Linked DNA regions of Homo sapiens: regions 1, 2 and 3 are each linked to region 4. The links come from fine-mapping of genetic effects on gene expression. A gene starts in region 4. Each other region holds a variant in brackets. All regions are shown on one strand. Distances are between the middles of the regions.

Region 1 (6,139 bases), 25 kb after region 4:
TCAGCCTCCCGAGTAGCTGGGATTACAGGCACCCGCCACCATGCCCAGCCAATTTTTTGTATTTTTGGTAGAGACAAGGTTTTGCCATGTTGGCCAGGCAGGTCTTGAACTCCTGACCTCAGCTGATCTGCCCACCTCGGCCTCCCAAAGTGCTGGGATTATAGGCATGAGCCACTGCGCCCGGCCACTGTTCACCATTTTTTTTTTTTTTTTGAGATGGAGTCTCGCTCTGTCCCCCAGGCTAGAGTGCAGTGGCGTAATCTCAGCTCACTGTGAGCTCCGCCTCCTGGGTTCATGCCACTCTCCTGCCTCAGCCTCCCGAGTAGCTGGGACTACAGGTGCCTGCCACCATGCTCGGCTAATTTTTTGTATTTTTGGTAGAGACAGGGTTTCACCGTGTTAGCCAGGATGGTCTCGCTCTCCTGACCTCATGATCCACCCGCCTCGGCCTCCCAAAGTACTGGGATTACAGGCGTGACCCACCGTGCCCAGCTAAGTTCACCTTTTTTAAAAGGACAGATTTTTTTTTTTTTTTTTAGAAATAATGTTTTCCTATAAATATATTTTTATTGGAAAATACCCAAATAATGAAATATTTATCATTTAGTTTAATATAACTTTAGATTCTAAATTATGAGTTTGTCTACAAGTATTTATCCTATTACATTTACCTAATTATTTCATTTTAATTGTTTACCTAGATTATTTATGAAAACTGTGATAGTCATCATTTAAAGCTATGGAACCGCCATTGCAAAATTGTAACTGAGACGTGAAAAGATTTGACCTAACTGACTCCATTTTGCTTTTAACCTCCAAGGTGTCCTTGTTCATTCCTGGGCATAGGCCAAACTAACTTTGGGAGGAACTTAGTTTATATTTTAGCTTGAAACAAAGATGATAACAAACCTTACTGGCTGTGGACTAGACCACCTAAAGCCATAAGATTAGAAGTTATGGTAATCTTACTAAATTTGAGATGTAGCTATTTTTATTAAACCAATATCAATGTCTTATTTATTAAAGACTACACAAGCAAAGATCATTCTGTTTTGGGTTGGGTTTATAGTTTTGTAACCCCTATGCCAAATTTTGATGCTTTGTAGTATCTGGTAGGGATAGGTATGAAATTGAATCTCGGTCTCCAAAAAGGGAGAATTATTATGAGGCTAGACCATGTGATGCTCTTACAGTGCACTTAAAGAAAAAAACTTTTTTTTAACAAACATATTTCTAAGTGTCTAAACCACACTCTTCCTTAAAAACCCGAGAGTAACCTCTGTTGCAATAACTATTTTAGTTGAAAAACACACCAGGTAACACAATACAAAAGTAAGCCGTTTAAGAGCTGAGATGAACTTGTCTGTTTACATTCTTGGGGTTCCATAAGGAAAAACAGGTTTCTCCCTCAGAGGGAGTCTGGCGCCTTCTCAGTTTTCTTTAAGGAACCCCAGGCTATTATAAACTATTTTAGGTTACCCATGCTACAGAGAGTGCAAGAGAAAGAAGACACAGCAGAAGTAAATGAAGAAAACAGAATTCGGTCAACTGAGAAGAAAAAAACTTTTGCTGAAAAAAAAGACAAGATCCTAGGGGAAAAACAAAAGCAAAAATATGAAGGCCTTTTAAATACAAACACACACACATGCACACATACACACACACGCACACATACACACACGCACACACACACGCACACATACACACACATGCACACACACACCCACATGCACACATACACACACGCACACGTACACACACACGCACACATACACACACACGCACACATACACACACACGCACACATGCACACATACACACATGCACGCACACATACACACACGCACACATACACACACGCACACATACACCCACGCACACATACACACACGCACACATACACACACGCACGCACACATACACGCACACACATACACACACGCACACATACACACACGCACACATACACACACGCACACATACACACACGCACACACACACACACGCACACATACACACACGCACACATGCACACACGCACACATGCACACACATACACACACGCACACATGCACACACATGCACACATACACACACATGCACACACACATACACACACGTACACACACATGCACACACATGCACACATACACATATGCACACACACATGCATACATACACACACGCACACATACACACACACTTCTTGAATGTTAGCTTTTAATTAAGCTGACTTTTCATCATTGAGCTCCTTTAAAAAAAATCTTTTAAGATCTCATCACCATATTTCAGCTAGGACAAATTGCTGCTATTTCAGAAGTACAGCCATTGCTCTCTTGGTTGGGCCTCGCTAGCAAAAAGGTGGCCTTGTTATGTAAATAAAGTCCCTTAGTAGTCAAAATGAAAAATCTTTCCTCTTTTTTTTTGGTTTCCTTTTCCGGCCGTTTTTCTCCCCCACCATACCACCTTTTGTGTGTGTGTGGGGGGGGGGTGGCGGGGTGGAATTTAGCCACTTCAGAGGCCTTGTTCCCCATAATTTGGAACTTTCCTTTGGATTTGATCAAGCCGGATAGAGTTGATCAAACCCAGTGGGAAAAAGACTGAAACAACAACAAGAACAGAAACAAACGACAACAACAAAAAACGCAGTTAAGCAAAACAAATGATCGCACAACTTATACAACTATTGAGCGCTCTAGTGGTGAGGAGAAATTAAGACAAGCTGGTTGTTAATCTTAACTTTAGCCAAGACAAACCCCAATTCAGTTACTTACCTAGGGATGGGTCTCAGGCTGAAGACTGCTCTCTATCACCCTAAAAGCAGGAAAAAACCCTCATCCTTCTTGTTGGAAGTGAGCTCAAACTCCATAAAGGAGTTACCTGCCTTCCGTTGTCATGGAAGCAGGAAAAACTTGCCTTCCTTGTTGGAAGCAAGTAAAACTCAAAAGAAAAAGGGAGTTGTACAGCAAAATAAACTTTAGATCTTGACCAAATTTTGGGAGATCAGGGATTCTCTGGAGGGGGTTCTCCCAGACCTCAGCAAATTGTCCTATTGGCTTGAGCCATAAAATTAGCTCATGCTGGTTCCAAGCACCAATAGATTTGTCAAAGGTCAGGGGCACCTCCGCTCAGAATCCCTTCATGGTTACCAAAA[C/T]TTGAACCCAGAAAATTTGAGACAGGTCTCAGTTAAATTAGAAAGTTTATTTTGCCAACATTGAGGACACACACTTGTGACACAGCCTCAGGAGGTCCTGATGACATGTGGCCAAAATGCTCAGAGCACAGTATGCTTTTATACATTTTAGGGAGACATGAGACATCAATCAACGTATGTAAGGTGAACGTTGGTTCAGTCCAGAAAGACGGGACAACTCAAAGTGGGGAGGGGGCGTCCAGGTCATAGGTAGATAAGAGACAAATGGTTCCATTCTTTTGGGTTTCTGGTTAGCCTCTCCAAAGAAGGTAATCAGATATGCATTTATCTCAGTGAGCAGAGGGGTGACTGAATAGAACGGGAGACAGGTTTGCCCTAAGCAGTTCCCAGCTTGACTTTTCCTTTTAACTTAGTGATTTTTGGGGCCCCAAGATATTTTCCTTTTACACACTTTTAAACAACCACATCTCGCGAGGACAGTACCAAGAGAATGATATTTAACCATTCATGAGAAATCTGCACCCATGATCCAATCACCTCCCACCAAGCCCCATCTCCAACACTGGGGATTACATTTCAACATGAGATTTGGATAGGGACAACATCCAAACTATATCAGACTGGGTCTTGCTCTGTTGCTTAGGCGGGAAGTTTGACAGTTTCCTACAAAGTTAAACATACACTTACCATATGACCCATTAATCCCACTCCTAGGTATTTAAACCCTAGAGAAATGAAAGCTTATGCTCACACGAAAATTTGTGTGTAACTACTTATAGCAGCTTTATTCACAATCACCAAAATTGGAAACAACACAAATGCCTTTCAACCAGTAAATGAATAAACAAACCATGGGAACAGTCATACAATGGAATAGTACTTAGCAATAAAAAGGAATGAACTATTGATACATACAACACCACGGATTAATGTCATACACACTGAGTCTTAGGAGGTTACATTCTCTATGACTCTATTTATACGACATTTCAAAAACCTAACACCACAGTGACTGAAAACAGATCAGTAGATGCAGAGATTCAAGGGAGGGAGGTGTGACTATCGAGGTATATAAGAGGGGATTTTGAGGGGGTGATAGAACTGTTGGATAGTCTGATTTTGGTGGGGGCCACACAAATCTATACATATCTTAAAATTCACAGGAAGATTTTTTAAAATATACATATATATTTAAACAAAAAAGAATGGAAAGACACACGTGAAAATACCAACAGTGGGTTATTTCTTTGCAGTTGAATAAAGGTGATAGTTGAATAAAGGTGATTCCCCCCTTTTGACTATGTAATATTTCTATTTTTAGAAATAATGAACACACGTTTTCTTTGTAAAGAGATGTCATCGGCCGGGCGTGGTGGCCCATGCCTGCAATCCCAGCACTTTGGGAGGCCAAGGCAGGCGGATCACCTAAGGTTGGGAGTTCAATACCAGCCTGACAAACATGGAGAAACCCCATCTCTACTAAAAATACAAAATTAGCTGGGCATGGTGGCGCATGCCTGTAATCCCAGCTACTTGGGAGGCTGAGGCAGGAGAATCGCTTGAACCCAGGAGGCAGAGGTTGCGATGAGCCAAGATCGCACCATTGCACTCCAGCCTAGGCAACAAGAGCAAAACTCCATCTCAAAAAAAAAAAAAGAGAGATGTCGTCGTATAGAAAGGTAATATATATATTTATTTACGTATGTAAATGCATTTTGCTATTGGACTAACTTGAGTGATGCCTGGCCTTGTTTCATACTGGTTCAGCCTTCTGTGGGTAAAGGAGCTTCACCCCATTACTGGAGAAACATCTTTTGGATGAGATGTTTCTTTTACTTATAGAAGAACTGGCAGTGCTCTCATCTCTCCATCAATCTTCTGCTTTGCCATGGGCCATAGCGTGAAAAGTGCTGGCCTCCACTGCCTCATTAGGTTTCCCATTAGCATCCATTAACCAACAACTTTCATTTCTTGGTGTGCAGCCAGCATTCCTTAGGAAATGAAAAAAACATCGACGTGATGATGCCATCATCGACTAAATATCGGCTTCCCGTCCTCATCAAGTCTGGATTGTCTTGCAGGACTTTCATCAAGTATTAAGTATTAGGAAGCTGCCAGGAGTTCCAATGGCACTTGGCTTATTTGATTTTGCTTCACAAAAATAAACAAAGTTACACTGGGCGAAATTTTTAAATTGTTTTATCCAAAGATCTAGAGAGAAGAATGTAAACCAAGTGCATTTGGCCTCCTTAGTCAGTTTTTGCAGCACCCACGACAGAATTCTGAGATTCTGAGGAGCAGCATGGACCTCAGATGCACACCCCTAAGGGAAGATGGCAGTCAACACTCCCAGCCACGCTGGGGGATCCCAGCCTCCCGCATCCATTCCTGCCATGACTACCAGCAGTAAGTGAGGCCACAGGCATCCCACAGGGCAATGCTGTTTTTCAAAAATCCACAGTTGTTATCAGACACTATGCTTCAAGTTGGCAATTTGGTAGAGCAATTGTCTGCCTTTGAGAATGACACCACACAGCACAAAGATATCACTAAAGCCATTAACAGGCATTTGTAACCTCTTAAAGATTTGGCCTCGACTCCCATTATTAGTTCTGGAACCTAAAATAAAATCAAATAATTCTTTTTTTTGTTTGTTTGTTTGTTTTGTTTTTTTCAGGATGGAATTTTGCTCTTGTCGCCCAGGCTAGAGTGCAATGGCACGATCTCGGTTCACTGCAACCTCCACCTTCTGGGTTCAAGTGATTCTCCTGCTTCAGCCTCCCGAGTAGCTGGGCTTACAGGCACGTGCCACCACACCCAGCTAATTTTTGTATTTTTAGTAGAGATGGGGTTTCACCACATTGGCCAGGCCACTCTCAAACTCCTGACTTCAGGTGATCCACCCGCCTCAGCCTCCCAAAGTGCTGGGATTATAGGCGTGAGCCACCACTCCTGGCCCACAATCAAATAATTCTACATGCTTCA
Region 2 (6,139 bases), 43 kb before region 4:
CCCTATGAGGCACACTATTTACAAAGCATCACCATCTGATACCCAGGTCAGATCCACAGCCGCAGCAGAGTCCCTTCCTGATCAGACGCCAGTCACAGTGGCTTTGACTTACACTTATAGAATCTGGCAGCAACATAGCCTGCAGGGGTGCCCAGCAGCACCCACAGGACCACAGCACACGTCATCAGCGCTCCTCGGTTGGCAGGTGACAAAAATCCCAGGCAAGCGAAAACTAAAACACAAATCGTGAAAGGCTGTACATGTTATTACTCTGTTTCCTTTGCTGTGAAATGATAGAGAAACCCTCTCATTTTTCAAACAAGAAAAAAATACAACTTCACGCAAAACCATGTGCTCTCCTACCATGCAGCTCTACACAATCTTAGTAATATTTACTGTACTGCACCAATCTGATCATACATGAGGCAAACTTCACTTTGGAAGTTTCTTCTCAGAGTCCAGAATGAGAGATCACATCCTTCCTGTGATCAGGGGAGGCTGACTGGATGCTCAAGAGTGCATTTGACTCTTCTGAGATTCAAGTACAGCCTTTAAAATTGACATAAGTGAAAATGTTTCCACTACAAAATATTCCCACTGTTCTTTCATTAAAAAATATGGGGGTCCTCTGGGGGTAAAAAAAAAAAAACCCAAAACCTTACAACATTCAAACAGAAGAGACATATATAATCTAATGAAAGAACAAAATGAGGGAGAAAGATTTCATACGGCCATTAGCTTTTCACAAATTACGGAAGGACCTTGTCAGCAATACGGGGAAACCCTGGCCCTACCTTATTCACGTGGTTAGCTTTGTTTGCTCTTCCCTATGTAAGCCTTCCTACTAATGAGAATTAAAATGCTATATTATATTCATAGAAATTCCCAGCTTTAAGCTGGGGCTCAGAAGTTATAAGGTGCTCAGAATCCCAAGGTGAGTAGGATACTGCTGAGAACTGAGTTTCAGGAGGCTCAGCAAGAAAATCCCCATTGTTTCCCCCCCTATTGTTTCCCCTAAAACGTGCATGACCAAGCACGTATGTGAGCAAGCACGCGCACACACCTCTGACAAGCACCAGAGTCATGATGAGCAGGAAACACATCAGGGTAGCTTTAGAAGATGTACAAGATTTCAGCTAAAATGCAACCCCTTTCTCCTCCTCGACCTGAAAAATGGACTGCCCTTCGGCAGAAAGTTCCTATTTGAGGACTTAAGGAAAATTATTCCCATCGTATTCTATCCTAGACTCTCTGAAACTTTCCTTCCTTAAAAGTTCACTTTTCTAGCTGACCGCAATAAAAACCAGAGCATCGCAGAAGACAGCTCCTAATAAGATTTGAAAGCAGGAGTTGGCTGGGTGTGGTAGCTCACGCCTGTAACCCCAGCACTTTGGGAGGCCGAGGCGGGCGGATCACGAGGTTGAGAGATTGAGACCATCCTGGACAACATGGTGAAACCGTGTCTCTACCAAAAATACAAAAATCAGCCAGGCGTGGTGGCAGGCGCCTGTAATCCCAGCTACTCAGGAGGCTGAGGCAGAAGAATCACTTGGACCTAGGAGGTGGAGGTTTCAGTAAGCCAAGATCACGCCACTGAACTCCAGCCTGGTGACAGAGCGAGGCTCCGTCTCAAAAAAAAAAAGAAAGAAAGAAAGCAGAAGTTTATCTTCAAACATTCATTCTGCTCTAAGTCTAGTTTGGCTCTCTGTCACCCAGTGCCTTCACCCTACCACCCTCTGTCCAAACCTTTTTTATGACACCTTTTCCTGACCTATTCTCTTTAGTATGACTTAACTTCTCTTTAGTATGATATAGTTACAAATTCTAGCTCTACCTATCAAAATTGTATCTCCTTAAGTTGTTAGTAGATTAAAAAAAAAAGATATCCTAGTCAGTCTTCAAACTGAACCTGAAGGTGTGAGTTTGGTTCCCAAACTTATTCAGTGCCAGACATTTGAAAATGATACTGCTCTTTGCAAAGCATTTATATAATTAATTTTATCATAAAAATTTGGAACAACTTTACTAACAAAAATAACTGTGGTATTATGTATTTAATATGTAATCAAACATAAAAAATAAATGTTTACTAAAAAATTATTAAAGGTTAGTTTCTGAATTCTCCCAGTATATTCATTTGTTGCTATTTATCAGTAGCAGGCATCAATAAAGTAAAATACATTAAATAAAGGTAAAATTTAGAAAATTCTATTCATAAACCTTTTTTATCTTCCAATTAAGGAAACTGGAAGACAGTGGAATTAACATATACCCAGAGGTAGTTTCAGAACAATCCCTGTGGCTATCAATACCTCTAAGGAACATTTATTTAAAAAAAAAAATTGTCCTAGTTGGCAAAAATTTAAATACAATTTCTGAAGTCGCTGAGGTAGCTCAAAGAAGAGAATCTTTTTATGGAGGAAGGAAGGTCTTTCCTACACACTCGCTTTCCCTAGAGGAGAGAGATCCTGCTTCCCAAATCCTCCCCAGATGAGAAGGATCTACACAGTGCTTCCTGCCCCATCCCTTCTTTTCCCACCCTCCTCCCTCCGTGGAAGCCAAGAATATCCTGGAACCCTAACCAGACTGTGCCTGCCCACGATGCCTGGGTAAAAGAGACCCTAAATGGTCCCAGTTCTGGGCTGTTTAGACTCAGATGCTGATGGTCTTAAGGACCTGTTCATCTCCAGCCCAGTGCCTCCCTGACAAAGGCTTGGTCTAGGAAGAGCTGAAGGGAGAAACCAAGAGTCAGTCTTTGGGTGCAACTAAACCTGCCCCAAGTCACTTAGATTTTGAGAACCTAAAGGATGCTCAGAAATAATCTGGCTTACCTACCCACTTAGAAAAACTGTGGTGTTTTTT[G/T]TTTTTTTTTTTGAGATGGAGTCTTGCACTGTCACCCAGGCTGGAGTGCAGTGGCGCAATCTCAGTTCACTACAACCTCCGCCTCCCAGGTTCAAGCTACTGCCTCAGCCCCACAAGTAGCTGGGATTACAGGCACCTGCCACCATGCCCAGTTTTTGTATTTTTAGTAGAAAGACGGGGTTTCACTATATTGGCCAGTCTGGTCTCAAACTCCTGACCTTGTCATCCACCCGCCTTGGCCTCCCAAAGTGCTAGGATTACAGGCATGAGCCACCATGCCCGGCCAGAAAAACTGGTTTTTAAGCAATTACTGTATTTAGAAAGTATTTTCTACTTGAAAATTTTCAGTTAACACTTACATAGAGTCACAAAGGTCATAATTAAAATCTGTGTCCCGGATCCTAGAAAGACTGATAGCAGCATCCCTTTTCTTGGAGGACGGAATATATCACCATGAACAAGTTTCCAGCCAAATTCTTCCTGGGCATCTTCCTAAAAGGGGAATGAAATCAGTTCGATTGTCTCATGGTATCAACAAGACAACTATAGACAGTTTGTTCACTGTTGAATATGCTGTTACAGAAAACAGGTTTTTTTTAAACTTAAAAATGTTAGTACCTATTTCAATTTTGAAGAATACAGCTTGACTCATGGAGCTTAATATGGCTTTGCTGAACTGTCTTATATGTCAGTTTCTTAAATTTATGACATTAAGGTCTACAAATATACTTATTGAGAAACTTTACAAAGACAATGTGATTGCTACCTAATTCTACTCTAAGTCAAGCTTTGTGATCTGACTTGATGACGATTTTTAGTCACATTCTATCCTCTTCATCCTACTCTTAATGATCTCCACAATAAGCAAATGGCATTAGCTCTCATATTCTAGCTACTTTGCTAATACAGTAAGCATGGATGTAAACATTCATTGAGCACCAACTATAAGCTCGGCTCTGTTTAAAACACCAGATACCACAGTGAGTGTAACAGAAAAATTCCTACTCTCAGGAGTACATGATCTCATTGGGAAGGCAGACAATAAACAAAATAAGTCAGGAAAGTATACTGTACATTAGATGGTAATAAGCGCTGTACAGAAAAACAGGATGTATGGGTGTGTGCAGGACAGGATGTAACATATGTGATGGCTGGGAGGGGTTCAATGGGAAGATCACATTTTGTAAAGATCGGAGGGAGGTAAGGGAACTAGCCATGTAAATGAGGGGCAGACCTTCTTAGCAGATAAAACAGTGAGCTTCGTGAAGGCTCTGAGGTGGAAACCTATGTCTGCCTGGTCTGAGGAACAGCAAGGTAGCCGGCACAGGTGCAGCAGAGTGCTGAGGTAACGTGGGGCCTTAGAAGCCACTGTAAAGCCTCTGACTCTTGCTCTGACTGAACAGAAGTCCCTGGAGGGCCGTGCTCAAGAGTGAAATGATCTGACTTCTGTTTGAGCAGTTTCACTCTGACTGCTGTGCTAAGAGATGGGAAGTAGGACAGGGTTGTGGAAGCAGAGTCACCACTGGCCTGGTTCCACATGGCAACGCTGTGCAAATTAAGATAAAACTCCATTAACAGCAATTATGTGGAACAGCCAATTATAAACAGAGTATTTTAAAATCATTTTAATATTTAATAAGACATAAAATCAATAAAAATCATAGGAAAGAGACTATAGAGTACAAACGTTAAAAGCTTATGAATATTCATATATATTTTCCCCAATCAGAACAGGTCAGAGAGGTTGGGGGACAGGAGGCTGAAGAAGCTGGGGGAAGAGAATACAATAAAAACCTGAGTTTTTTGCATTCATTCCAAATTACTGTGATTCTTGTGAAAATTCTTTTATTATGCTGCCATGAAATGAAGAGTAGAAAATGTGTAACACTGTGCAACTTAAAAAGTTTGAGACTAAAGAGGCTGGAACATGCAATTATTTTAAATATATCAAAAGGTTGAAATGATACAAATTTGTTAAGATTAATTTTAAAAAATTAACCACACAAATAAAAATTGCTTAGGAGTTATTCCATTCAACTTTGTGGTTTCACAAACAGGTATGTGTCAGGGATGGAGAAACCTTACAGAGTTGTAACTGTGCACCTACACCCCACGCTGCACCAGTCCATTCCCACACAGGAGGCTGTGAACAGGTCAGCTCCCAAGGCTGTGCTGACTCCATTTCTATTTTTTTTTTTTTTTTTTGAGACAGAGTCTTGCTCTGTTGCCAGGCTGGAGTGCAGTGGCACGATCTTGGCTCACTGCAGCCTCCGCCTCCTGGGTTCAAGCAATTCTCCTGCCTCAGCCTCCCGAGGTAGCTGGGGCTACAGGTCCCCACCACCACACCCAGCTAATTTTTGTGTTTTTAGGAGAGATGGGGTTTCACCATGTTGGTCAGGCTGGTCTTGAACTCCTGACCTCAGGTGATCCGCCCACCCCGGCCTCCCAAAGTGCTGGGATTACAGGTGTGAGCCACCGCGCCCAGCCAAGAATATTAATTCTTAAGTATCACTTTCTTATTTGAAAATGTGAATTCAAGATAACTTTTGAGAAGAATTTTTTTGTTTTTGTTTTTGTTTTTTGAAGAATGTTTTAAAAGCAGATTCTAAAGCTATTATTTTACCTTTTTGCAAAATAACAATAAACAGTGTCCTTGGCAGACTAAAGACTAAAATGTTTCCACTTACCGTAGAGTCCATCTGATTATATCTAGCAATATCTTTGTGCAGTGTCCGTAACATAATCATAGCTACCATTCCAGATAAGAAGAGAACAATGACCAGGGAATTCATAATGCTGTAGAAATAAGCACATCATGAGTAATCTGTAGCTTAATCCTAGGAACAGTAAAACTCTTTTAAAAACTGTTTATTGAGTAACATTAAAACAGTCTTGATCAAAATCAAAATGAAAGCTATCTGAAATCCAACAAATTCAATGAACTGTGTTCTTTCATGTTTCCCTCCAGTAGATAAATAACATTATATACTTATCATAATACAGTTTCATAGTCTGTTTAGAACTAGAATTTTTTGGTACATGGTCAATATTATGAAATAACTACTGTGCCCAAATCACTGCCACAACAAAGGACTGGCTTGTGCCCTCAAGAAATTTACTGAAGAACAACTTTACTCAGTAAATTAGTGAGTGTCAAAAAGATCAGACAGCAATAGGAAAAGGAGAGTTATGGCAACATGAACAACTCTAGATAAAAGTTTTGAATCATGTTTGAAGGGGATAATAATAAAGTCATAGCAACAACAGCGGCTTCTGT
Region 3 (6,139 bases), 68 kb after region 4:
CTTTCTACAAGAGCATGAATTATTATAGTTTAAAGATTCACATTCATCAAAGCCAGTCCCAGCTGAGGCAGATACAGGTGAGTGATACACGATGGGGTGCATGCTGAGGTCAGGGAATCCATTCATCAGCACGTTTGTATTCAGATCTCAGTGTGTGCATAGCACTGCGCTTGGTGAGGAGGGGAGACAGGAGGCGGAGCCACAGTCCTGCCATCAAGGGGGAGGAAAGGGATGGAAGGGAAGGGACCTTTAGCATTTATTGTACCCCAGACACAGTTTATACACATGTGACTCCCTTAATATTCACAAAGGACCTCTGAGGAGCTGTTATTATGATCCTCATCCTGCAGAGGAGCAAACTGAAGCCCAGAATGGGAAGCTACTCTGCCAGGTAAGAGCAAAACCTGCACCTCCGGAATCCCTACCTGCCCTGCTCTGCCAGGCTTAGGCCCACGAAGGATTCATTAACAATGTCAGGCAGGCAGTGTGGACCATGGTAGGGGAAATGCCCCAATGGGAAGGATAAAGGAGTTTTGGCCGTCAGTGACTCTTATTTGGGAAACCAAGAAATTGCCTGGACTTTCCCAAAGGTACAGGGAGGTTTGGACGTGTTAAACTGGAGCCCACATGGTGGCGCGCACCTGTTGTCCCAGTGACTGAGCTGGGCTTGAGCCCAGGAGGTTGAGGCTGCAGTGAACCATGGTCCTGCCACTGCACTCCAGCCTGGGCAACAGATTGAGACCCTGTCTCAAAATAAAAATAAAAATAAAAATAAAAAAAGTGGAGCCCAGCTGGAGGCAGAGACAGGCCCAGCAATGAAGAAACAGTGAGCTGAGAGGGGTGGAGAGAATGGGGTCCCTGCATGCTTGCCAGAGTTCCCCAAGGCATTTCCAGTTAATAAGTAAAATGTATTTAAAATGTGAAGACTGGCTGCCAATCCCTCACGGAACTCCCAGACTGGACTTACTTTCATCATCCTCTTGGTGCTGTTGAGCCAGGTGCGTTTCTAACAGCCCTGCTGAAAGACAGCCAATGGCGTAAGACTTTTCTTTTTTCACATAAAAACCCACTAAGCTTCCCGCAGACATCAGGCCTTTCACCTGACTCAGGGCCCGCGGTTATACCTGTGTAGACCTACGTTAGCAAACAGCGGCTTATCGGAACTCGGGCCCTCTGACATCAGCCAGGAAGGAGCAGGCTATGCTGCTGGGAAGTGCAGGCCTGAAAGGCTGTTTTTCTTACTGAGTGAGCAGTAAGGTCACCCAGATAACCCACTCCTGAGTCACGAGGCCTTTCTGACCTATGACTCTGGAGGGCAGCTCTGTTTATTTCTTCTTTGTGGTGACAATGTGGGTGTCACCTTGAGGAGCCCATTGAAGAAGTTCATTGAGTGAGAAGACTCGGCCGGGTCTCCGGGGCCGCTGTAACAGACTCAGGGCTGCAGTAACAGACTCAGGCCACCGTAGCAGACTTGGGGCCTCTGACGACAGAAATGTATTTCCTCGCCGTCTGGAAGCTGGGAGGACCTGGTTCAAGGTGCGGGCAGGGCTGCTTTCCCCTGAGCCTCTCCACAGTGTCTTCCACCAGGGGCTTCACGTGGTCTTCCCTCTGTGTGCGTCTGTGTTCTAATCACCTCTTCTTGTAGGGACACGAGTCATGGGACCTTTTTTAATCATAATCACCTCTTTAAAGATCCTGTCTCCAAATACAGTCCCATTCTGAGGTACTGGAGGTTAGGACTTCAACCTACAAATATGTGGGGGTGCAGTATGCCCCTGACTTCGCTGGAAGTGATGGAGGTGAAGTTGGTCAATGGTTTCCAATGCTCTGCTCTCCCTACACTGATCGGGGACTGGCCTCTGTCAGGCCTTGTGAGGTGCCTGTGCCCACCCACTGTGAGCCAAAGATGGAGGCTCCCAGAGAAGATAGTCCCAGCCCTCCCCCACTAGCCTGGAACCCATCCTTCCAGCTCAGATCACACTCTGAGGAAAGAGATCCCTAATCCAGGCAGCTCAGACACCTGCTAGGATTCTCCAGACCCCCGCGAGAGCGCACCCTGTGGTCCCGGGAGAGGGCAGAGTAAGCCATACCTCAACAGCACTCCACCTGCTCAATGGCATGAAACAGTTCCACATCTGCTGGACCTGGAGGAGGTGTCTTCCTAGGTCACCTACATGCAGGGCACCATGGCGATTTGGAGATACAAGTGCCACACACAGAGACAGAGCCACGGCCTGCCTTATCCAGCTGCCCCCAGCATTTTTTAAAAAATTAGACAGGGTCTCACTCTATTGCCCAGGCTAGAGTGCAGTGGTGCAATCACTGCTCACTACAGCCTTGCGCTTCTGGGCTCAGGTGATCCTCCTACTTCAGCCTCCAGAGTAGCTGGGACTACAGATGTGCATCACCATGCCCAGCTAATTAAAAACAATTTCTTTGTCAAGACAGGGTCTCAATACAATGTCCAGGCTGGTCTCAAACTCCTGGCCTCAAGCAGTCCTCCTGCCTCGGCCTCCCAAAGTCCTGGGATTACAGGTATGAGACACTGTGCTGGGCCCCTGTCAATTTTGGAAGGATCCAGTTGTGTTTCTTCATTCATTTAACACATATTTGTAGAAAGCAAATCCGTGCCAGGCATAGATGCTTGAGATTCATTAGCCAACGAAACAGAAAACAACCTGTGACCTCATGGAGCCTCCATCCCTAGCGGGACGGGTACAGCAGGGGCTTCACCCAGAGAGGCTTCCTGTGAAAACGCCCACTGGGTCCTGGGGAACTGGGAATCCCCGGCCGCTTCTGCACAGGGCTCCTGGGTGGTTTCCTGTTTCGGCTCCACAGCCGGGGGAAGTTTCTGCTGTTTGCTCCTCTGCACTCTAAGCGGAGATGTGCACACTCGCGAGCAGGGATTTTTCTGGTTCAGGAAAGTCCTGCGTCCTTGGGCGCACTTTC[A/G]CAAGTGTGAGAAAGCCAGTTCAAATGTGACTTCCCGTGAGAAACCCTGCCTGGCCTCCCGCCCTCCCCGGCACTCTCAGCATGAATCATGCTGCGTTGTCACTATTGTCTTGCTCATCTGTGCCTGTCGCATTCCCTGAGTTCCTCCTGGCGGGGTCTCGGCCTTGTTCATCTTTGGACCTGGTGGCCAGCACAGAGAATGTGCTCAATGAATGTTTGCTGGATTGAATGACACACCCTCAGGTCCAAGTGGGCCATGCCCCTCTGCCTGCAGCCTGGTGGCCGTCAGGGTCAGGGCTCCCATGCTTTCTGATACCCGGGAGGATGGGTCTCTGACCATGGGATTTTGAAATAGCAATGAGCCTGAATAACATTTTGAGATACTGGCAACAACGAAAGTGTGGAATGAAACTTCCCGTTATTTCTGCTGGCTAACACTAAGTGGTTGCCACCTATGTTCATAATACAAGGAACTGCTCAGTTTCAACCAGAGGTGAGTGAAAACAGATGTCATTGTTTTCCCATGTCAGTTCATGAGCCCTCTGGGTTGTATTCTCAGGTCGCTCGAGGGTCCACTTGTGCTCCATTTAGAACCTCCGGACTCTACCGCTCATCCCCCAAGTTAGCCTGTCACCTTTCAACTCCCAGGGGCTCAGGTGTCAGGGCCTTCGCGTTGCACCTTAGCCTTGGTGTAAGTCACGTGCCCTCAGCTCCTGCCCCTCTCCCTGAGTGACGTCCTCTCTACAGACAGAACTGGGCACTTTCTCCTGCTCCCCAGTGGACCCGAGGCACGAAAGCCTCAGCAAGCAGGGAGTGACAGGCACAGACCACAGCAACCACCCGCAGCCGGAGCAGAGTTCGCGCTCTCCCAGGGGCCCTCCTTGGTGGCTTTGGGGGGGCCTCAATGCCAGGGTTTGCATCTTTTCTTTTCTTTCTTTTTTTTTTTTTTTTTTTTGAGACGGAGTCTCGCTCTGTCGCCCAGGCTGGAGTGCAGTGGTGCGATCTCAGCTCACTGCAAGCTCCGCCTCCCAGGTTCACACCATTCTCCTGCCTCCGCCTCCTGAGTAGCTGGGACTACAGGCGCCCGCCACTACGCCCGGCTAATTTTTTGTATTTTTAGTAGAGACAGGGTTTCACCGTGTTAGCCAGGATGGTCTCGATCTCCTGACCTTGTGATCCGCCCGCCTCGGCCTCCCAAAGTGCTGGGATTACAGGCGTGAGCCACCGCGCCCGGCCGCATCTTTTCTTTTTCTCCTTTTTCCCAACTACTGCTGTGCTTTCTGGCTTTGTGCCTTCCTTCTTTGCTTCCTCTCCCATCACTCCACAGACAAGGAGGCTCTGTCCAAGCTCCTGTCCTGGCTCGCTCAGCCCAGCCTTCAGGTTCTCAGCCCAACACGAGGGTCTCCTTGGGTAGTCAGCTCAATCATTTCAAGCTATTAATCAACGGACTTCTCCTGAATGCATCCAGACCTCTCCTCAAGGTTAGTTTTGATGAATACAATTTTCTCCATCTTGTTACAACAGGGTCAACGGTTCTTTGAAGAATCTTGCTCCTTTGGGACTTTTTTCCCACGGATGTGCCCTCTTTGGGGGCAAAGACATGATCCATATCTATCACCATCTCCTCTTTTTCTGCAATCACTGGACACCTGTTCATTTGGGGCAACCTAGGGCAGCCCAGAGTCCCTGTGGAGTCCTTATCTCATCGGGACGCTGGGTGGGACACGAGTAGTTTATGACAAACAGGTTTTTCTGACAAACGCAAGCAGGAGGAATCATTAGGGAATTGATAATGTAATTCACTGCACTGAGTCGTACAGGCATCTCAATAGACACCCCAAAAAGCATTTGGCGAATGTGAATATTGTTGATGAAACTCCTAGCAATCCAGGCTCAGAACACCTCATTCCTAACTTGGTAAGGGTGGCTACAGAGACTCTCAGAGATTAAGACATATAACAGCGAAATCTAAGAGAACAGGGGTGCCTGCCATCACTGCTTCTCTCCAACCTTGTAATGTGGGTCATTGTCAATGTAGTAAAGTCAGAAAAACGGGCACGAATACTAAAGTGAACAAAACCAAAATTGTCACCATTCCAGATGATGTGACAATATGCCTAGAAAATCCAAGACATCAAATGAAAACCTAATCTGAGAGCTTGGTGACATGGTTGGATACAAGATTGCCATACAAAAATCAATGGCTCTCACATCCGTTAGGATGGCTATTGTCAAAACAAAATCACAAGTGTTGGTGAGGAGGGGCAGAAATCAGAACCCCTGTGCGCTGTTCGTGCGAATGTAAAACAGTGCGGCCTCTATGGAAAACACTATGGTGGCTCCTCAGAAAATTAAGTCTAGAATCACCTTAGGACCTGGCAATTCCACTTCTGGGTATGTATCTAAAAGAATTGAAAGCAGGGACTTGAAGAGAGATTTACACAATCATGTTCACGGCAGCATTATTCACCTTAGCTGAAAGGTGGACGCAACCCAAGTGTTCATCAACAGATGGATGGATAAAGAAAACGTGATATATGCTTACATCAGAATATGATTCGGCCTTCAAAAAGAGGGAAATCCTGACATATTCTACAACAGGATGACCCTTGAGGATGTTATGCCAAGTGAAATAAGCCAATCATGAAAGGATAAACACTATATGAATCCTCTTGTATGAGGTCCCTAGAGTCATCAAATTCTTAGAAAGTAGAATGGGGGGTGCCAGGGGCTGGGGGAGGGGAAATGGGGAGTCAGTGTTTCGTGGGTACAGAGTTTCTGTTTGGGAGGAAGATAAAGTTCTGGAGATGGATGGTGGTGATGGTTACACAACAATGTGAATGTATTTAATGCTATGTAATCATGTTTAAATGGTAAATTTTACATTATATGTATTTTACCACAATACAAACATCAATGATTTTTCAAAAACCATTTTTGTTTTGAGACAGGCTCTTGCTCCGTCGCCCAGGCTGAAGTGCAGTGGAGCGATCACGATCACGGTTCGCTGCAGCTTCAAACTCCTGAGCTCAAACGATCCTCCCCGCTCAGCCTCCCAAGTAGCTGGGACTACTGGCACATGCCACCACCCCTGGCTGAAAATCACTCATTTTTAATGAGAAAATGAAGCGGGAAAGGAAGCTACTCACAACAGCAACAAGATCCGTACTATAACCAAGAATGAAACCAG
Region 4 (6,139 bases):
AATAATGTGTACAAGACTGTCCTCCTTAACAAATACGAAATAGATGAGAATAAATTATTAACATCCTGATTGAAGTAATACAAATTTCAACTGTTTACTGTTATTTATAGCATCTTCTTTGAAAGGCAAAGAAAATAAATATTAAAGTGTATTTCAAATTCTCTACACCAGTTAGTCATATCGCAGGAAAAAAGCTGAAAGTACACCCTCCTGCTCTTCTAAGAGTTGTTTCCATTAACCAGATGTGAGTGTAGCTGGCAATAAAGATAAAAATCCAAACATTTCGGAAAAATGATCTGCTCTGCCTGTTTTATCCCTATACCTATGAAAATTAAACATCCAAAATGACTCCCAAGATTAACTAAAAAATAACTAGAATACAACCTAGCCACTTACCAAAGGACCTGTTGAGAAAACAATCATCTAACTGGAAGACCACCTATAAGTTTCACTTATTCATTTTCTAAGTCCATCTCAAATGTCACTTCTTCTTCTTTTTTTTTTTTTTTTTTTTTTTGAGACAAAGTCTCGCTCTGTTGCCCAGGCTGGAGTGCAATGGCGCGATCTCAGCTCACTGCAACCTCCACCTCCAGAGTTCAAGCGATTCTTCCTGCCTCAGCCTCCCGAGTAGCTGGGATTACAGATGCCCGCCACCACGCCCAGCTAATTTTTGTATTTTTAGTAGAGACGCGGTTTCACCATATTGGCCAGGCTGGTCTTAAACTCCTGACTTCAGGTGATCCACCCGCCTCGGCCTCCCAATGTGTTGGGATTACAGGCGTGAGCCACCACACCTGGCCCTGTCACTTCTTCTATAGAGCTTTCCCTAAAGACTCTAGTCCACTGATGTTTCCTCATTTTGTTTTAGCACACTTTGGACATCATCCTGTGTAACAGATCAGATTTCAATAATCTGTTCATAAGCTTATGTCCCTTACTTTGAGGTTCCCAGAGGGCAGGAAATATATTTTTCATCTTTGAGGCACTAGGAATAGAATATACAACTGCTGTTAAAGTAAGACCAAACACTAGGCCTTAAAGGTTGGTTACTAAAATATTTAATGGAAAAACCAGTGTACTTGCAAGTCTAGATCTTCCACTTGGAAGCACAACAACAGTCTTTCAGTCAGAATCCTCAAAAAGGAGTGAAAGCTTCTTGCACTGCAGAGTATGAACTTAAGTACTGAAACACTAACTGCAGACTTGAGTAAACCTTAAATATCCTTAGATATTTTTTCAGATACAAGGTTTTGCACAGATGTATAAACATGTCATTCAAGATAGCTGACAACCTAAAAAGAAACTGCAAAATGTTATGAAAAATTTAAAGCTTATCTAATGCCCTAAAATAACCTCAAAATTCACAGCTATAGTAAAGCTAACTGTAATAAACACCAGCTTAAAAAAATCAAACTTAATAAATAAGCCTATTTATAGATTGTAAACGTTTGTTGAACGATTATTTGAATTGTTGAAATCATTAAAGGTTTCAAAGAGATCCTCATCCCCCAAATGTTAAGTTTTAAATAAACTTAACGAAATAATTGTGTATGTATACTGTAAAGCCCTACACCATATAACCTAAAAGCAGGTTACTTTATTTACGCCTCTTTTACTAGCAATTAAACTGAAAACCTTGAGTGTGAATGTTGTAAGAGATCAAAGTTTTCAAGACTTGCCCTAGGAAAACACCAGTTTCTCCCACCATTTGCCCCTTTTAAGTGTTTAAAACCATCTCAGAGAAAATAGTGAGACCTCGTATCTTTTTTTGTGTATTAAAATCTTTTACACTTAAAACTCAGAAATCAAGTGCCTCAACCATTACAGCAACTCTTTATTAATGCACTTTGTGTGGCTCTGGGTGTTATACTCCACAAATAAGGAACCAACTTCTAATTGTGAAGCGAGATATCAAAGTCCTAGAAAGAACAAGCTCTCCTAACCAACTAGAAGGTTCCAGGAAAATGCAATTAAACAGGAAGCAATGAAGTTAAAAGCTAATGGAAACTGTTAACTAGGCTGAGTGTTGCTCACATGTAGGGAGTCGGTCACCCGCTTCCTCAGCGTACATGTTACAGGGCTGTGAGCGAACACTCACGCGTGGACCTGCATACATCCAACTCCAAAGCTCTGAGGCGTGAAGCCCAACTCCAAGGGCGCTCCACACGGTCCCTGTTCCAGGAAAACTGAATACAGCTGCTCGTGCCACTTGGCCCGCAAGACGGGAGGCGAGTCTGAGGCCCACTGCGTCCTCCAGAAACTACCCTTGCAAGGGCTGTTTCAGAGCCCCCCACCCACAGCCCAGCAGACCCCAAAAGCTTCTGGGGAAACTCAACCCCACCCGCTGCTACGCCCCCTTCCCTCGCTCCCACCCGAGGATCAGCTCCCCCGGATAGGGACGACTTCCCCTTCCAACAGTGCATCAGAGGGCTCGTCAGGCCTCACCCACCTTGCACTCGTCGCTCTTTTTTTCTTCGTCGCAGAAGTTGACGGGCGCCAGGCCGGGCAGGTAGAAAGCGCCGCTCCGGCGCGGGCCAGGAACCGCCCCCAGCAGGAGCAGCGACAGCAGCAACAGCCGCGGCCACCGAGGTGGAGACAACACCGGCAGCCTCGCGCTCATGATAGTTGTTTCGGGGAAAGGGCAATCAAACCTAGGGGGTCAAGAGGGAAGGAGGGGTGGGGAGTCTCGGAGACGACTACAAGGCCGCCAGAGATAAAGGAAGCCGGCCCCCAGAAGGCTAGTTCCGGTTGCGCTAGGAGACACCCCGGGTCCCGCAACAGAAACCGAAGCGGACCGCAACAGAGCATGCGCACCGCCGTCTGCACATGCTCAGTGAGAACGGTCGCAGGCACCAGGAGGAGTTTCCGGGAGGGAGCGGGGGCGAAATCCACTTTCCGGGTTTTCCGCGCGCCAGCTGAGGTGGTTGCTGGGAGAGGTGGTTGCTGGGAGAGCTGTTCCGGCGCTCACGTTCCAATTCCAAATTACAAATTCCGATCTAGAGCTCCCACGCTTGGGGGCTGTGGAGCGCTCGCCAGCCGCTCCCCGTTTGCTGCTGGGTCTTACGAAGTTCTCATATCCATCATACAGTTTCTTTGTCACACTGTCCGCGGCACGCCAGTCCCTATGACAGAAAGCACCTGCGGTCTGTCTGGAGGCGGAGTTGGTGGCGGAGAGAAAAAGTTCTGGAGACACCTGGTTGGGAGCAGGCTAAGGAAACAAATGGGGAGGAATTAGCCACAAATCCTCAAATAGACAGCTACTCAAAGGCATCTTCACGGACAATTTCCAAGCATTGGATGCAGTGGTGCATTCTTGCATTGGGCAGTGATTGTGTGCACACATCTCTTTAAGGGAGAGTGGAAATGGGGTGAGGAGGAAAATGGGAGTAGGATAGAGTGTAGCGTTGACATTTATTTTCTTTAAAGGAAGACCCGAGCATACCTGAGAGCTCAGTGAAGAAAGTAGTTCTGGCGAATCGGATTAATATGGTATGATCAGCCTTTAGCAAGATTCTATCACTTTTCCCACTGATGATGTGAGACGGTGTCCGCGTGTGTAAGTGCACACACGTGTGTGTGTGTGTGTGTTGCATCTTCTGAGTATTTTTCAAGGAGAAGCTTTTTAGTGATCTGAAAAAGTCAATTCAGTTAGCCACTAGAGTTCAATCAAAAACTTCGGAAGAGTGCATCATCTTAAAGTACATAAGAGAGAATCATGACCTCCAGCTCAGAATTCAAGAATAGGCAGGTTTGTGAAATAGTAAGCTCAGAAAGTTGAGGGCCAGTGAACTCCTATTTCAAGTTCTTGCGGGTGTTTGTACTTTTTTCCCAGGTAAGGTTTATAACTTTCATCAGATTTTCAAAGGGACCTAGGACCCTGCAAATTGATCCATATAGTGGGGTAGCCAAGTTAATCAAGAGAACTGGGAAGTAGAAAAGAACGTTCATCTTAAGGTTGTTGTGAAGATTAAATCAAAAATGGAGGGAAAGTGCTGAGCACATAGCTTGGCCCAAGGAATGGCACTTTTTTTTTTTTTTTTGATAACAAAAACTAATCTGGTAGGGCCTGAGCAGAAAATTGTGCCTAGGTGGCTTCCCTTTCATGTCCTCTCCCTCAAATAAATCAACATATTCGCTGAACTTTGGGATAGGGAAAAATTGTAAAATATTCTGTATTTGGAAGTCATGGAGATTTCCAATATAACAAAAGGAAGCAGACGTTTTCTCCAAATATTAAGAGGAGGAAACAAAAATTAACATTTTTGCTCACTATCTTCTTTTCCTAGCACCACTGAAACTTGACCTTCGGCCGGCGCGGTGGCTCACGCCTGTAATCCCAGCACTTTGGGAGGCCGAGATGGGCGGATCACGAGGTCAGAAGATCGAGACCATCCTGGCTAACACGGTGAAACCCCGTCTCTACTAAAAATACAAAAAAATTAGCCGAGCGTGGTGGCGGGCTCCTGTAGTCCCAGCTACTTGGGAGGCTGAGGCAGGAGAATGGCGTGAACCCGGGAGGCGGAGCTTGCGGTAAGCCGAGATCGCGCCACTGCACTCCAGCCTGGGCGACTGAGCACGACTCCGTCTCAAAAAAAAAAAAAAAAAAACAAAAAAAAAACTTGACCTTCATTATATCTCACTGCCCTCATCCCAAACATTTCCTCTCCCAGTTTTCCAGGAAACGGCATCGCTGCCCATCTCTTTTCAGGCCCCAACCCTGGAGAAGAACCTAAATTTCTCATTTCCTCACTACCTACCTCCAGTCCTTCAGCAGGTCCCGTTGGTTGGGCTGCTAAACTATGGGCTAAATCCTTTCAGTACTTTCCATGCCCACAGCTACCACTCTGGTCCAAGCCAAATTCTTAGTTCCCCTGGACTTCTTACTGCAGTAGCCTCTCAGCTTCCACTCTTGGCAAAATCAATTTTATAAAACCTTGAAATCCCTTAATACCACTCGTCTGCTTAAACCTCGGCATCCCACATTTACCACTATCAGGAAGGATCACGTTTGTTTGTTTGCTGTCTCATTCCCCCATTTATATGTGAATTCCACGGGTAAGGGCCTGCTCCTACATCCCACACCTCTACATCCACAGAGCCTAGAGACCGCAGGCGCGGGGAAAGCACTCCACGACCATCACTGGCCAGGCCACAAGAGTGCTGGATCTAAATTTGGAACCGGACTTTCAGAGCTGAAATAAACCTGAGGTTTTCCAGGGGCTTTTAACCTCCTTTTACAGCCAAGGATGCGCCTAAGAAAGGGGAGAGGCTTCCGTGACTTCCTGCAGTAACGCAGCCACTAGAGATTGAGACTACAACGACTTGGGAGTCTAAAAGTCTGCAACCTTTTCCACTCCAGAGCTCAATGTTTCCTCAATCCCCCGGGATCGGCATCAGCAAAAACCCGGAGAAGCGGAGCCTTTCTCAAAGAAAATGACCTCCAGACTCATGCTACCATCTCGACCGGTGCAAGTATCACGCATGCGCAGGGCCGGCCGCCCGGCCGCACCTCGCCAACTCCTACTCGGACACGTCATCTAGGTCGGCCTGGGTCTGGTGGGAGGGGCCGGGGGCGGGGCTCGTACGCGGGGCGAAGTGGTCCCCCTACTTCCGGATCCGGCCTCACCTGGCCAACGCCTCATTCGGGGTTCCTTGGTTACGTGGCTGCGGTGTCTACCCGGTGCTGGGGCGTGGCGGAGAGAGACCGCCCCGCCCTCCACGCAGGCCACAAAATGGAGGCCCTGCCCTGTGGGCTTTTGTGGCCTGGGCGCTGTCGTGCCGAAAGACGAAAGTGACAATTCCAGTTGCAAACTGGAAAGAAATGGAGTTTTTCCTTCATTCTCCCCATGATCGTGACGGTCCTTTTCTCAAAGTACTAATACTTTTAATGGGACTGTAAAACTTGAGGGATATGACTCTCTCCTCTCCTCTGCTTCAGATTGCATTTGCCAACTCTGATTTACCGCCAATACTATGGTGCTGTCATATTCATAGAGACAGAAAGTAGAGCAGTGGTTGTAGAGAGAGTCTGCAGAAGGAGGGATGGGGATTTACTGTTTAATGGCATACGGTTTCAGTATGGGTTGGTGAAAAAGTTGGGATGAATGGTGATGACTGCACAACAATGCAAATATGCTAA

Evidence for each region. PIP is the estimated chance that this variant, and not a neighbour inherited with it, causes the effect.
Region 1: its variant is fine-mapped to the expression of TM9SF2 in whole blood (TOPMed, PIP above 0.99).
Region 2: its variant is fine-mapped to the expression of TM9SF2 in whole blood (TOPMed, PIP 0.98).
Region 3: its variant is fine-mapped to the expression of TM9SF2 in whole blood (TOPMed, PIP 0.98).

What each region holds. Positions count from the first base shown.
Region 1 is chr13:99,472,933-99,479,071 of GRCh38, reverse strand. No RefSeq gene overlaps it. Among named protein-coding and RNA genes, the nearest start is that of LINC01232, 23 kb to the left of the region's middle. The variant C/T (reference allele first, on the strand shown) is at 3,155.
Region 2 is chr13:99,541,078-99,547,216 of GRCh38, reverse strand. TM9SF2 (transmembrane 9 superfamily member 2) reads right to left here. Exons shown (of 17, transcript NM_004800.3): 9 at 5,550-5,658; 10 at 3,222-3,354; 11 at 113-232. Among named protein-coding and RNA genes, the nearest start is that of LINC01039, 33 kb to the left of the region's middle. RefSeq lists enhancers at 790-939, 3,907-3,966 and a silencer at 4,317-4,386. The variant G/T (reference allele first, on the strand shown) is at 2,863.
Region 3 is chr13:99,429,690-99,435,828 of GRCh38, reverse strand. It overlaps LNCARGI (lncRNA antiviral response interferon signaling inducer), which reads left to right and starts at 3,079. Exons shown (of 2, transcript NR_197585.1): 1 at 3,079-3,442; 2 at 5,901-6,139. RefSeq lists enhancers at 2,503-3,232, 2,240-3,439, 3,683-3,762, 3,773-3,952. The variant A/G (reference allele first, on the strand shown) is at 2,950.
Region 4 is chr13:99,498,088-99,504,226 of GRCh38, reverse strand. It overlaps TM9SF2 (transmembrane 9 superfamily member 2), which reads right to left and starts at 2,755. Exons shown (of 17, transcript NM_004800.3): 1 at 2,450-2,755. The coding sequence starts at 2,620. LINC01232 (long intergenic non-protein coding RNA 1232) reads left to right here and starts at 4,921. Exons shown (of 5, transcript NR_110731.1): 1 at 4,921-5,541. LINC00449 (long intergenic non-protein coding RNA 449) reads left to right here and starts at 3,164. Exons shown (of 2, transcript NR_133664.1): 1 at 3,164-3,832; 2 at 4,287-4,504. RefSeq lists enhancers at 2,375-2,963, 2,870-3,049, 5,328-5,447, 5,458-5,667.